2 linked regions of the Homo sapiens genome follow. The protein of the gene in region 1 purifies or fractionates together with the protein of each later gene. This does not show direct contact. Each region holds a gene or a part of one and is shown in the gene's direction. Other genes may lie near its edges. The genes, in order: NUS1 and POTEI.

What was found.
Region 2: the proteins of NUS1 (region 1) and POTEI purify together in Homo sapiens (affinity purification with mass spectrometry; 2 studies listed by BioGRID and IntAct, with this or other methods). This does not show direct contact.

What each region holds. Positions count from the first base shown.
Region 1 is NC_000006.12:117,706,281-117,711,340, forward strand, and holds the end of NUS1 (dehydrodolichyl diphosphate synthase complex subunit NUS1), read left to right. Parts: intron 1-644; coding exon 645-735; 3' UTR 736-4,447; downstream 4,448-5,060. UniProt on the Homo sapiens protein: With DHDDS, forms the dehydrodolichyl diphosphate synthase (DDS) complex, an essential component of the dolichol monophosphate (Dol-P) biosynthetic machinery.
Region 2 is NC_000002.12:130,485,283-130,492,583, reverse strand, and holds part of POTEI (POTE ankyrin domain family member I), read left to right. Parts: intron 1-1,843; coding exon 1,844-1,914; intron 1,915-3,304; coding exon 3,305-3,349; intron 3,350-4,385; coding exon 4,386-4,552; intron 4,553-7,301.

The sequences.
Region 1 (5,060 bases):
CTCACAACATGGCTACAATATTTCATCATGTTTGGATGCTGTGTGGCTCTGCCCAACATTAAGCATGGCTTTCCTAAACTAAGTAATATTGGCTTTACTCTGACCAAGGAGAAATTCTTTAATGGATTTAAATGAGATCCTTTATACATAGATCTCTAGCTTTGCATTAATCTGAGCTTACGCTTTAACAAGTTATGAATCTCTCATTACTAGTTGCTTTTCTTGTGGAAAAAGAGGCATATTAATTTTTTAGTTGATGATGACATTGTGTGTCCTTGTCATCTCATTGTCCACAATGAGCTGAACAATCTTAGTAGAATTGTTTGGCATATTCTGCTTATAATTTACCCTCAGAGCAGAGGGAATAGCTATCTTCAATGAACACTCGTCAATAAACAGTGAGTGCCACTACCCCTCGGTGCCTCAGAGGCTCTCTGCTATTTCCCAGTCAGTTCTGTCAGGGCCCCACCCTTTCAGTCTACATATTATGATTAAGACATTTTCCGTGCCTGTCATGGTGCTGTCTGGTGGAGGATAATTTGGTGTATTCTATTCTTAACTTCTTTTTGGTCCTTATCTTCTGGTTCCCCCCTACATTACAGTGTATATCTAATTGCTTTTCTCCCCCCGTGTTTTCTTTTCAGCTCTTTGCCTTCCCACCTAAACATCAGTTATGAGGACTTTTTCTCTGCCCTTCGTCAATATGCAGCCTGTGAACAGCGTCTGGGAAAGTAGTGGTCATTGGTTGCATAATTTGATTTGAGGCTTGTGGAGGAAAGGAACCAAGTGACTCTGATGTTTACAAAGCACCTATGAAACCCTGTACACACCTAGTTCATAATCCTCATAATTTATCAACAAACACAAAAAAGTGTCTTACTTGAGAGTGAGTGTGTGTGTGTGCGTGTGCACGTGCACACATGTGCACGTTTGTATGTATGGAAATAAACTTATAAATGGGGACGTATTGGAGAAGGAAATACATAGACCTACAACTTTGAGCAAATAGCAGTGATGTTTTAGGAACTGAAATGTCACACTTAAAGTCTTCAGCCCAGCTACTTCCCTATTTTTGTGGGGAGAAGAGGGCCTGATTAGAACTGTTCTGGTTGTGTTTGGCGGGAGGGGAATAATTTTTGTTCAGTCCTTCTTAGTGACCAAACTTTAATTTTTAAGAATAATATATTGACTTACTGAACTGAAGCATTCTGAGTTGAAAGGAGCTCCAGAGGAGTGGAGTTCTGTGTTGCTCACATGTTAAAATCTTGCTCACCTTCAGAGCAGAGGGAATACCTATCTTCAGATATCCGTCCATTTTCATCTCTTAATTGTAGTCAAAAGTATGACTTGAGAGTGTTGCTCTGGTATTCTGGGTTCTGAAGTCTGGTATTCTGGTATTCTGGGTTCAAAAGTATGACTTGAGAGTGTTGCTCTGGTATTCTGAGAGTTGCTCTGTATTCTGGGTTCTGAAGATTATTTGAAAAATAACTCCTACTACATTGAAATGCAGACTTAAAAATTTAAACATTGGATTAGGCAGTCAAAAAAACCAAGCAAGCATAAAAGGTCAATAAGTTGTAATCTTGATAGTAAAGGTGGAAAACTTATTATAAATGGAAAGAAAGTTTTATTTCCTTTTTTGTTTGATGGGCAGTATGCCATATTATACCCAAAGTTCTTTTAAAAAATATTTCCATCAACCATTTTTATTTAAAATAAACATTTGAGGGAAGTTACCAAGGCAGCTTTTTTCCTCAAAAGTAACCTGTTCCTCTTTGGAATAGCACATTTTAGGGGCATGGTTAATACCTGAGATTTTTACTCAGTAAATCCTGATGGTTACTGTGTGTAAAATATCTTTAAGTAGGATTGAAGGCCTCTGTGGGGGAATAAAATATTACCAAAGTCTATAAAAATAAATTTTACATGTTCTCTTTTATGACAGAGAGCAGCACTGGTTCTGTTATTTTTAAAATGAATAATTGATTTCTTGATAGGTGTTTAATATTTCTTCCCTCACTGCTGATTCTTAGATAGAAACCATTCTTTATATTTGATAGACTGCTTTCAGAAAACCCTTATCAACAAGTGTACAATACTTATCTAAAACTATACATTTAGAATGGAGCAGTTTAATACTAGATCTCAGAAGTTTTGAAAAATAGCAAAGAAGACTGGATTTGGAAAGCATGGTCTACAATTGGTTGTTAAATTCTGAAGCTATGAAGAATAAATGTTTCAACTTTGGATTATGAAACCCCATTTATGATTTTTTAAATACACTTGAAATAAAAATGATTAAACTAAATTTTGGTCCAGTGACATTACTTTGCACTGCATAATCCATTATACGTTGTACGACTTTTTTTTTTTGTTTTAATTTATTACTGAGAGTTTTGTGTGAAGCTACAGCATATCTAACCAGAGAATTTCTGATTCCTTATACTGTGATTATATTATATTGAGGCATTTGTAGTGCAGCTGAAGACTGAATTTATGCCTTTTGTAAACATGATAGGTATAAATGTCTTATAAACATTCTGGAGTATGTATAGCTTTAATGAATGAAATTTAATGGACCTGATTAAAATGAAGGGATTTAATCGTTGTTAAAGTTAAGTTAGTCAAATAAATTACCTACTGGAATATAGCCCAAGCCAGTAAAGGTTTAATATTTGCATTTTCGTGCTTTTATTTTCTCCTTCCATTCATAAGTATATACTTGAAAGTACATCTGTAGCCTATGATTTGAGTCTCTTGAAGTTCTAGGAAGAGGCAAACTACAAACTACTAGGATTCTGATTTCAGATGTAGTCATTCCAGAACCTTCTCTTTATGAGTTCACCTGCTAGTACAATCTCCACAACTTGAATGGCATTGGTTGTTCTGTAATTCCTGCCAAAAGCATCACAAGTTGTACATCATCAAGGCTCCCTTTGCACTCCCAAGAAGAACTGGTAATTTTAAACAAAAGTATGTGTCTTTATTTGTATTGGAAAATACTGTCTTTAAATTGTTTCTTGTTGACACTCCCCACAATGGAAAAATTACCGAATTAAACCTGTTTTATGGATGGCAGCTTGGAGCATAGCAAGAAGTTGGAGGATTTGAATTCCATTCCCAGTTCTCATTGTGTTTTGTTTCTTAAAACTATAATAATCGGTTACTGTTATAAAGTTTAAAAGGTGGTTTTAATGTGAATAGCAAATTCTGGTATATCGTGACTAACGCTTAAGAATGCCTGTCTTTGAGAGGAAGGTGTTATAATATTAATGAACAGTGCCAAATACACTGTGCATATCTGCAATTTAATCTTTGAATGTATGTTACTGGATTAGCTCCCTCCTCCTGTGTGATGGTACCATGCATAGAGTCAATCAAATCCTTGTGATGTTTTGTATGGACTTTGACAATATGTAAATAATGTGTAAAGCCAGTTTTTATGATTAAGGAATCAAATTTATTGAATTTTATTATTGAAAGTTGAAACTTAACATGTATGAACAAAAACCAATAAAAGAATATACTCTTTTCATTGACTATAGTATTATGTGAATGCTACATTTGTTCTGAACACTTAGGGGCTGCAAAAATGTAATAAGAAATGCATATGACTAGATAGCAATAGTGTTTTTTTTAGATGGTATGCTCTTGATTGAAATATATTCTCACTTTTACCAGGTTAAACATTTGGAATCTTATAATGTTACTTGCTTTTTGATAGATAATAGTGAAATAAATTCAGCTTTGCCATTGCTGGAGTTGTCAAAATTCCACAGTAATTAAAATTTGAATTTTTACCGAATATGAAATTTCCAAATTAAAAACGTATATGTGTACTCTTTTAAAAAGGAATTTGATAGTTCTTGTCAAATGAGAAAATTTAAAGGTAAGAGTTATGGTTTGTCTTATGCTGCATAGACTATTCACCTCCTAACTTGAAGGTCTAATCATAAGACAATTGTTTTTTTGTGCATAGTTTTCATCTAAAATTAAGTTTACCAAAGGCAAATAACTGCTTACTAGGAACTTCCTTTAGCAAAAATTACTATAAAGTTCAGGACAGTTTGAAATAAAACCCAGGAAACAAGATTAATGTGAGCAGTTCTCCAAGATCCTAACTGGTGGGACATAAACTATGATGCAATGGATAGGAAAAGGTAGTGCAAAAAGAATTTCTTAAGGTTTAAAAAATACACTTTTCATTATAGGAAAAAGAAGATTCAGAGAAACAAAGGAATGTAACCTTATTGATTACATTTTTGGTGATCACCGAGAATTTTTTGTACTATATTTTAAAAAATGTATTCTACTGTAACAAGTTAATAAAGAGATTTTTTAAAAAACTATAAACTAGAAATTGAGAGTCTTGCATTCTCTTTTGTATTTGATTATTGTGTCTGGATATAAATTACAATAGCACATGAAAATAAAATGTTTTAAAAAATTATAGTCCACATTCAGTTATTCTTAATATTTAATGTTGGCCCAAATTCTTCAAATAATTTTATGCTCATCTCTCCCTCATCTAGTGATTCAAGGACTGTTAAGTGAATTTTAGCATGACGTATCCAGATGATTGCAACAAATAAAATGTACTCTGAGGTCAAACTATTAGCAATATCTGCTATTGACTGTTCATAGTCCCCTTCATTAGTATTAGTAATTTAAGTTGCTGTTACAAGGACAAGAAAAACATCTGGCTTGGAAAAGGCAATCCTGGAAAAAAAGAAAAATTCAGAATATGGATAAATGCTAACAGCATAGTTCTGTCCTTGTATAGAGTAATGTTTCCATTCCGATAAAGATTTATTTCAATTGCTATATCTTATGGATTTGGTTCTATGAGTGCTTTATTTTAATAAATGTGTATTTTTCAGTGTTAATTTATCAGTAACAGCTATACTTAATAAGTGCCTTAAATTTCTTTCTTCTTTTTTTTAGAGATGAGATCTCACTGTATTGCCCAGGCTAGGCTTGAATTCGGTCTCAAGCGATCGTCCCACTTCAGCTTCATGAGTAGCTGGGCTGACAGGTTGTGTGCCACCATGCCAGGCAAA
Region 2 (7,301 bases), on another chromosome or scaffold:
TAAATGCAGATAGGATCAGGGACCTCTCTTGAACATTAATGTCCAGGCATCTTAAAATTACACATAAGGCTTTCATAATCTGACTTCTGCCCCACTCTCCATCTTTAGGCCTTTTCCCTGTGTGCCCTTTCTCTGGCATTACTGAGCTGCTGGCAATGCCCTACTCACTCATCCTTCTATTGTAGGCAAATATTTTCACTCTTTCAGGCCTCGCTCCCGCTCTTGCTGCTGTGTGGCATGCCGTCACCCTTTCCTGCCCTCTACCCCTTTTAATCTGGCTAGTCTCAATATTTAAGTCTCTGCTTGGGCATGTTTTCTAGAAAAGCCATCCCTGACATGCTTTATTTTAATTGTTTTTAAACCCTAATGCCTAGCATGTATTTAGCAGGACTCAATAAGAAATTTCTGAGTAAAATGTGAGTAAGATGATGTGCAAGACTGTCCTCTGCAGTCTTGGAGCAGACGGGACAGACATGTGGAGGAATAATGTAGAGTTCAGGTGGTAAAGATGCAGTAGAAAAATCAGTGAAGTACTAAGGCAGCCTCAAGGAAGGAGGTACCTGTTTATCTGGGGAAAGACATGCAGAATCAAGGAAGACGTTCTCATAGCATTGTTTTAAAAGATAAAAATAAGGATAAGTGTGGTGGCTCACACCTCTAATCCCAGCATTTTGGGAGGCTGGAGCAGGCAGATCACAAGGTCAAAAGATCAGGACCATCATGGCCAATGGTGAAACCCCGTCTCTACTAAAAACACGAAAATTAGCAGGGCATGATGGTGCATGCCTGTAATCCCAGCTTCTCCGGAGACTGAGACAGGAGAATCGCTTGAACCAGGGAGTGTCAGAGGTTGCAGTGAGCTGAGATTGCGCCACTGCACTCCAGCCTGGTGACAGAGCAAGACCCTGGCTCAAAAAAAAAAAAAGAAAGAAAAATGAAAATAAATATGTCTGAATCGTGGAGGGAAACATTTTAGATATTGGGAAGAGATTGTACACTAATAAAGGTGTCAGTAGTAATTTTTGAAATCATTTGTAAGGTACTATTGTTGCAGAAAACAGGAGGCAGGAGAGACCAAGTGGGTGAAACAGGAGGATTTCATTTAGGTTCGCACCAGCTCAGCGGATTTGCATCCGAAAGCTGAGCCCTGAACAAAGACAGGGCTTGGCTTATGTAGGCAAGCTTACAGAAGCAGAACAAAGGCAGTTAATCATATAGTGACAGTTTTGCAACCTCAGCGTAGCTTATGACCTTGCAGCTGCATTGAAGGACAACAGGAACTTGCAAATAATATGCATTTGTAAAAACAGCTCTGAGTGAATGCTGAGGGGAAGGGGAGACAGTAAAGGATTTTGTTTTCTTAACCTTGCTGTGGGATGTCTGGAGCCCATACCTGTGGGCTCTGGCTTCTCAGGCAGGGTCACCATGACCTTTCCTGGGCCCTGCTTGTTACTATCCTTAGAGTCAGACTAGCTAAGTGCGGGAAAACTTGTTTCTCTTTAAAACTAAATTTCCTTTTCTTTACATTTACTGCTTCACTATTAGGAAGTGGAGAACAACATACTGTGTTACCTTATATGTTTCTACTGTATTTTAAAGTTGTGTTTCTGGTGGTTTTGTTCATTTATGTTGGGTGGATGAATTTGTGAGTGAATGACATCAGGTGTCTCCCCAAGTGGTTTGTTGAAGTTTGGGAGAATTATTTCCTAAATAACTATTTCATGAAAAACTAAACACTCAATTTATGAAATAAAATGTTGTCTTAAATCTATTTTTATAAAGGCAATAGTTTTTAACTGTTCTAAGTGGTTCATTTTAACTGAATATATGGATTTCTCAACAGAACAAGACTTAAAGCTGACATCAGAGGAAGAGTCACAAAGGTTCAAAGGCAGTGAAAATAGCCAGCCAGAGGCATGGGAAATTTTAAATTTAAATTTTTGATTTAATGTTGTTTTCTTTGCTTTAATAATATTAGATAGTCCAAATGAAATTACCTTTCAGACTAGGTTTTGAGAATCAATAGATTTTTTAAAGAATTTTTTAATAGATTGTTAAAATTTATTTTAATAAATTCAGTAATCTCATTAACAGAAGAATGGATTCTAATTTAACATTTGATATTTAACTTAAAAAACATAACCACTATAAAATTTAAAATACTCTTATTTTATAATATTTTTATTTAAAATATTCTCATCTGCCTTTTTGATTAGCTTATAGCTAATCTTTCCTTTTGGAATAGAGGCAAAAACAAATTTCAGAACTTTGTTCTTTTATTTTTACAACACCCGAACATGATGAAGAAGGTACATCAATTATTGGATTATGTTATTAAGCAATAGAATTATGAACAATGTAACTCTGATGGTCCCTGAGCTGGATTCATGGTTAAGGAGTAATCATGGCCAGTGATTGAAAATCTGCAGTTTTATATTGTCAGTCACTGATACCAAGGTTAAAAATATATTCTGCCTTATGGTCTCTCATTGACCTCAGCGTTTCTGTTCAGGGAGGGAACCAGGTCATAAAAGCAACACAGCTGCCTATTACAAGAATCATATCTTGCAGAATGGAACCTTTGGTGTTAGTGCACAAACACAATAACATTCTAATTTATTTCAGTTGCAGAAAATTAGTACATATTATTAAAAAAATCTTTATCCACTGTAATTAGTACACATTAGAATATATTAGAACTGGACTTAAGCAGATAATCTGGATACATAACACTATCATATGACAGTATATAATCTCAATTAAAATTTGAGAAATTGCATCTCTTTCTGTTTGGTGTTGATTTCGGCTCCTAATAATTTAAATGGTGCCTACAATCCAGTTAGGAATCTTTTAGAAAAGCACTTCAGTGCACTGTAGGGGCTCACTAGTTAGGGTTTCATGAGGTAAACTCTTTTCAAGTGAGGAAGATTTTGGAACACTACAAATCATCTGCTGATTCATTTTTGGTAGATTTAACACATAACAAGTTTAGTCCAAACAAATGGTGACCAAGTTAAGTTTGCTGGTTCACGTTTTTTTTCTTCGTTGGGCTAAGGTGAATTATTTTTCACATGTTAGTCAGAAGCCAGTAATGTGGCAGTAGCTAAACATAGATTAAAAAGTTAATTCTTAATTTTAATTATTATTTATTTAACAGTTAAATTTTAATTTTAATTATTTTCTAATTTTTCATCGTCCATACTTCATTAGTTAAGAATAAAATTTTTTTAAAACATGCGCTCCAAAAGAGGAGACATCACAGAAACACAACAAGCAAATTAACCTTCTGTTTTTGCCTCTGCAGAAAATGTCTCAAGAACCAGAAATAAATAAGGATGGTGATAGAGAGGTATACCTTCATATTCAAATGTTTCTGTTGAATTAGATTTTTACATTATGTTGTTTAACAAAATGTAGTAAGTGTAGGCATACATGATCCTATCATGTAAGTAGCATAAATCATGAGTGAAAAAGTTAATATTTAACTCAGAAAGAATTCTGTACTTTGAGTTTTCAAGAGATACAAAGCCTAGAGATATTCTTTGATTATTATGGAACAATCCTGAATGGTGCCATAAAATGCTAGGTAATGCCACTTTAGGAGCTTTGGACCAATCATTTTATCTTTCTTGGTTTTAGTCTGATTATCAATAGATAATGTGGCTAAAGAAGATAGCTTCTTATTCTGTGTATCTTCCAGCTAGAAAATTGTATGGCTATTCAATGTGAAATTTGGGGAGCATCTCATTTTCTGGAATTCCATGCTTGCACGTCAGCAGTTTCACTCTGCTTCTTGTGTTGTGGCAAACTTTGGCTCCCATTTTCAGTGAGCACCATCATGTTTTTGATATCCCAGCAACCAAATGAAAAAAGAATGCTCAAAGGCAGTGGGGTAGAAGAATATCTTAGCGCAGAAAAGGGCAAACTTCCTTTCTGTTCCTGAAGCCGCACAGTGTGTCATCCTCTAAATCTGACTGTTTAATGTAAAATCTAGGTGGTAAAGACAGAAGACACATTTTGCATCTTTGTCTTTTTATTTGCGTGTTCCCATGAGTCAAATGGGGTAAATACATACATAAGATTCTGAAGAGTGATTGAGAATAAAAGCATAAAATGAAGGAGGGCCCTTTTTGAATTTTGGAAAATTCTGTTTCATTCATTGAAACAGAAATGAAGCAAACTTTACAAAAATTTCTGTGATATATTAATGATATGATAATTACATCTTAAAGTTATATGGTAATATTTCTATATATATGATCAAATTTAAGTGTGAAATATTTTTAATGACTAAAATAATGACAAACTGAGTCAATTGATAGAATCAATTAAAAAGGTTCTTTTTATTCAATAAAGTGATAACTATCCTTAATATCCCACTCAAGGTTGAAGAAGAAATGAAGAAGCATGAAAGTAATAATGTGGGATTACTAGAAAACCTGAGTAATGGTGTCACTGCTGGCAATGGTGATGATGGATTAATTCCTCAAAGGAAGAGCAGAACACCTGAAAATCAGCAATTTCCTGACAACGAAAGTGAAGAGTATCACAGGTAAGCCTATGGCAACATTGAACAGGAGATAACTATGTGCTGTCAAACTAACCCTAGTTTGGGCTAATATTCATGATGAACAAATTTTATAGTTTTACTAGGATATTCAGCCTTGCCCGTTAATCAGAAAAATGAAAATCAGCGAACAATGAGTTACCATTTTTCCAGGCATTAATTTATTTGAAAAATAACCAGTATTGGCAAATGTGAGGGAAAAGGCATTTTCTTTTCTTTTTAGTGAACTTTTCTTTTAGTTTCAGGGGTACATGTGCAGGGTTATTATATAGGTAAAGTGTATCATGGAGATTTGGACTGCAGATTATTTCATCAGCCACATAATAAGCAAAACACCAAAAGTTAGTTTTTTGGTCGTCTCCCTCCCGTGACGCTCCACCTTCAAGTAGACCCTGGTGCCTGTTATTCTCCTCTTTGTGTCCATGAGTTCTCATTATTTAGTTCCCACTAATGAGTAAGAATATGTGGCATTTGATCTTCTGTTCCTGCATTAGTTTGCTTAGGATAATGGCCTCCAGCTCCATCTGTGTTGCTGCAAAAGAAATGGTTTCATTGTAAAAGACATTTCATACACTGCTGGTAAATACATTTTGAACATTAATTTAGTAGCATATTCACAAACACATGTATAACAATAAGGATATATAATATATGTAAAGGATATTTGTGTAGATGTTACATATATACTTATGTATAAGGACATTTATTACAGCATTATTATATCAAAAAGATGGATCCTTATCAATAGGAAATTATCATTATCAAAAGTAAATCATTACCAATAGGAAATAGCTCAATTTTCATACCCAGAAATTAATGTAGTATGCAACCATTTTTTACAAGTGAGGTTAGATCTAGAGTATACTGATTATTTCACAATTAAAGTGTATTTAAAGCATCAGTGATGACATCTTAAGAGTTCTTGTTAAAATTCTTGTAATATTTCCTGTGTTGCAAATGGAAGCTACATGCTATATTGATGCTGTACCTTGTTAGCAACAAGATTGCTAGTTATTAAATTTTTATGTCAGTGCCTGAGTGCTGAAATATTGGACCCTCAATCTGAATATTGCCAAGGGATTGTACATGGGGATCTGTATTTAATATAAACGTTTCAGTATATTGGGTAAAACTTTTATTAAAATGTATCAAAGGATCTTTCATCTGCTAAACCAGGAGTTGGCCAGCTTTTTCTGCAAAGAGCCAGTTAGTAAATATTTTAGGCTTTGTGGACTATATAAATTAATTTATTTTTGAGACAGGGTCTCACTCTGTTTCCCAGGCTGGAGTGCAGTTGTGTGATCATGGCTCACTGCAGTCTTGACTTTCTGAGCTCTAGTGATCCTCCCACCTCAGCCTCTCTACTAGTTGGGACCATAGGTGTGCAACATCACACCCAGCTAATTGACACTGTGGACTGTAAAGTGAATAAGCATGGCTGTGTTCCAAAATACTTGACTTACAAAAACAGGCAGTGGGCTGGATTTGGCCCAAGGTGCTAGTTTGCTGACCCTTGTGCTAAAAGGAAGGTGCTGCAAGTGAAGTGACTCTTATTTGTAAAAGTGCCCTGCGTGTGTGAAATTATCCTTCCTTTGAGAAAAGGATATATTTCAGTATTCACCTCACCATATTTTTCCACAGTGACTTCATATAATTTTAAAAATTTCATTTATAAAATAAGATTATTGTCTGCATTTCTCCCACTTTATTCCTGTTAATAGAACCCAGTATTTTGCTGTGATCAATTACTTTGTATATTTGATGAGTATCAGTTGTCCTAGAATTGGCTGATTTTATCAAGCAAGAAATACTCTCCTTGAAACTTTTAGTATTTCTTGGTCTTTATGCATAAGCATGAATAAAATGATAATCAGCTTATGTGTAATCTAGAAATGTTCAAGGCGACTTTTAGTTCTATAGTTTTAAGAATTTAACACCTCAGTCTGGCATTTTTAATGCCACATGTGTATAATTTTTATAACCTTTAAAATATATTATTGTTATATAAAATTTGAAAACTACACCTGTTATATAAAACTTGAAACTATTTGTCTATTACTTTTCCATGACTGTGGAAGAAAATTACAACATTCTCAGTCATGACTCCTAAGCATGATGTCCTTAAAAGAACTGTCCACACTCACGAACTCAAATTTTCTTTTCATTCACTCTTAATCTCACACCGGCGTCTTCAATTTCAGCAGTCCTCCAACATTGTTTTTCCTCAAGATTATCACAATTTTTTTTCTGTAAATTATGCATTTTTTCTTACACCTCATTTTATTTAATCTGTCAGCAATATTTGAGCCAGTGGAGGGCGTCTCCTCCCTAACGGCGTCTTCACTTGGCTTTCAGGACCTCACTCCCTCAAGCTTTTCCTCCTGCATTTCTAGTCCATTCATCATGGTCTGTTTTGCTTGCTCCTCCTCATCTTTCTCCTTTTGGACATTGTTGTTTCCCAGGGCTCAGTCCTCAATCTTCTTTCTCCTGACTTTTTCTTTTTCTTTTTTTGAGACGGAGTTTGACTCTGTCCCCCAGGCTGGAGTTCAGTGGTGTGATCTCAGCTCACTACAACTTCTGCCTCTTGGGTTTAAGTGATTCTCCTGCCTCAGCCTCCTGAGTAGCTGGCATTACAGGTGTGTGCCACCATGCCTGGCTAATTTTTGTATTTTTAGTAGAGACAGCATTTCCCCATGTTGGCCAGCCTGGTCTCAAACTCCTGATCTCAGGTGAT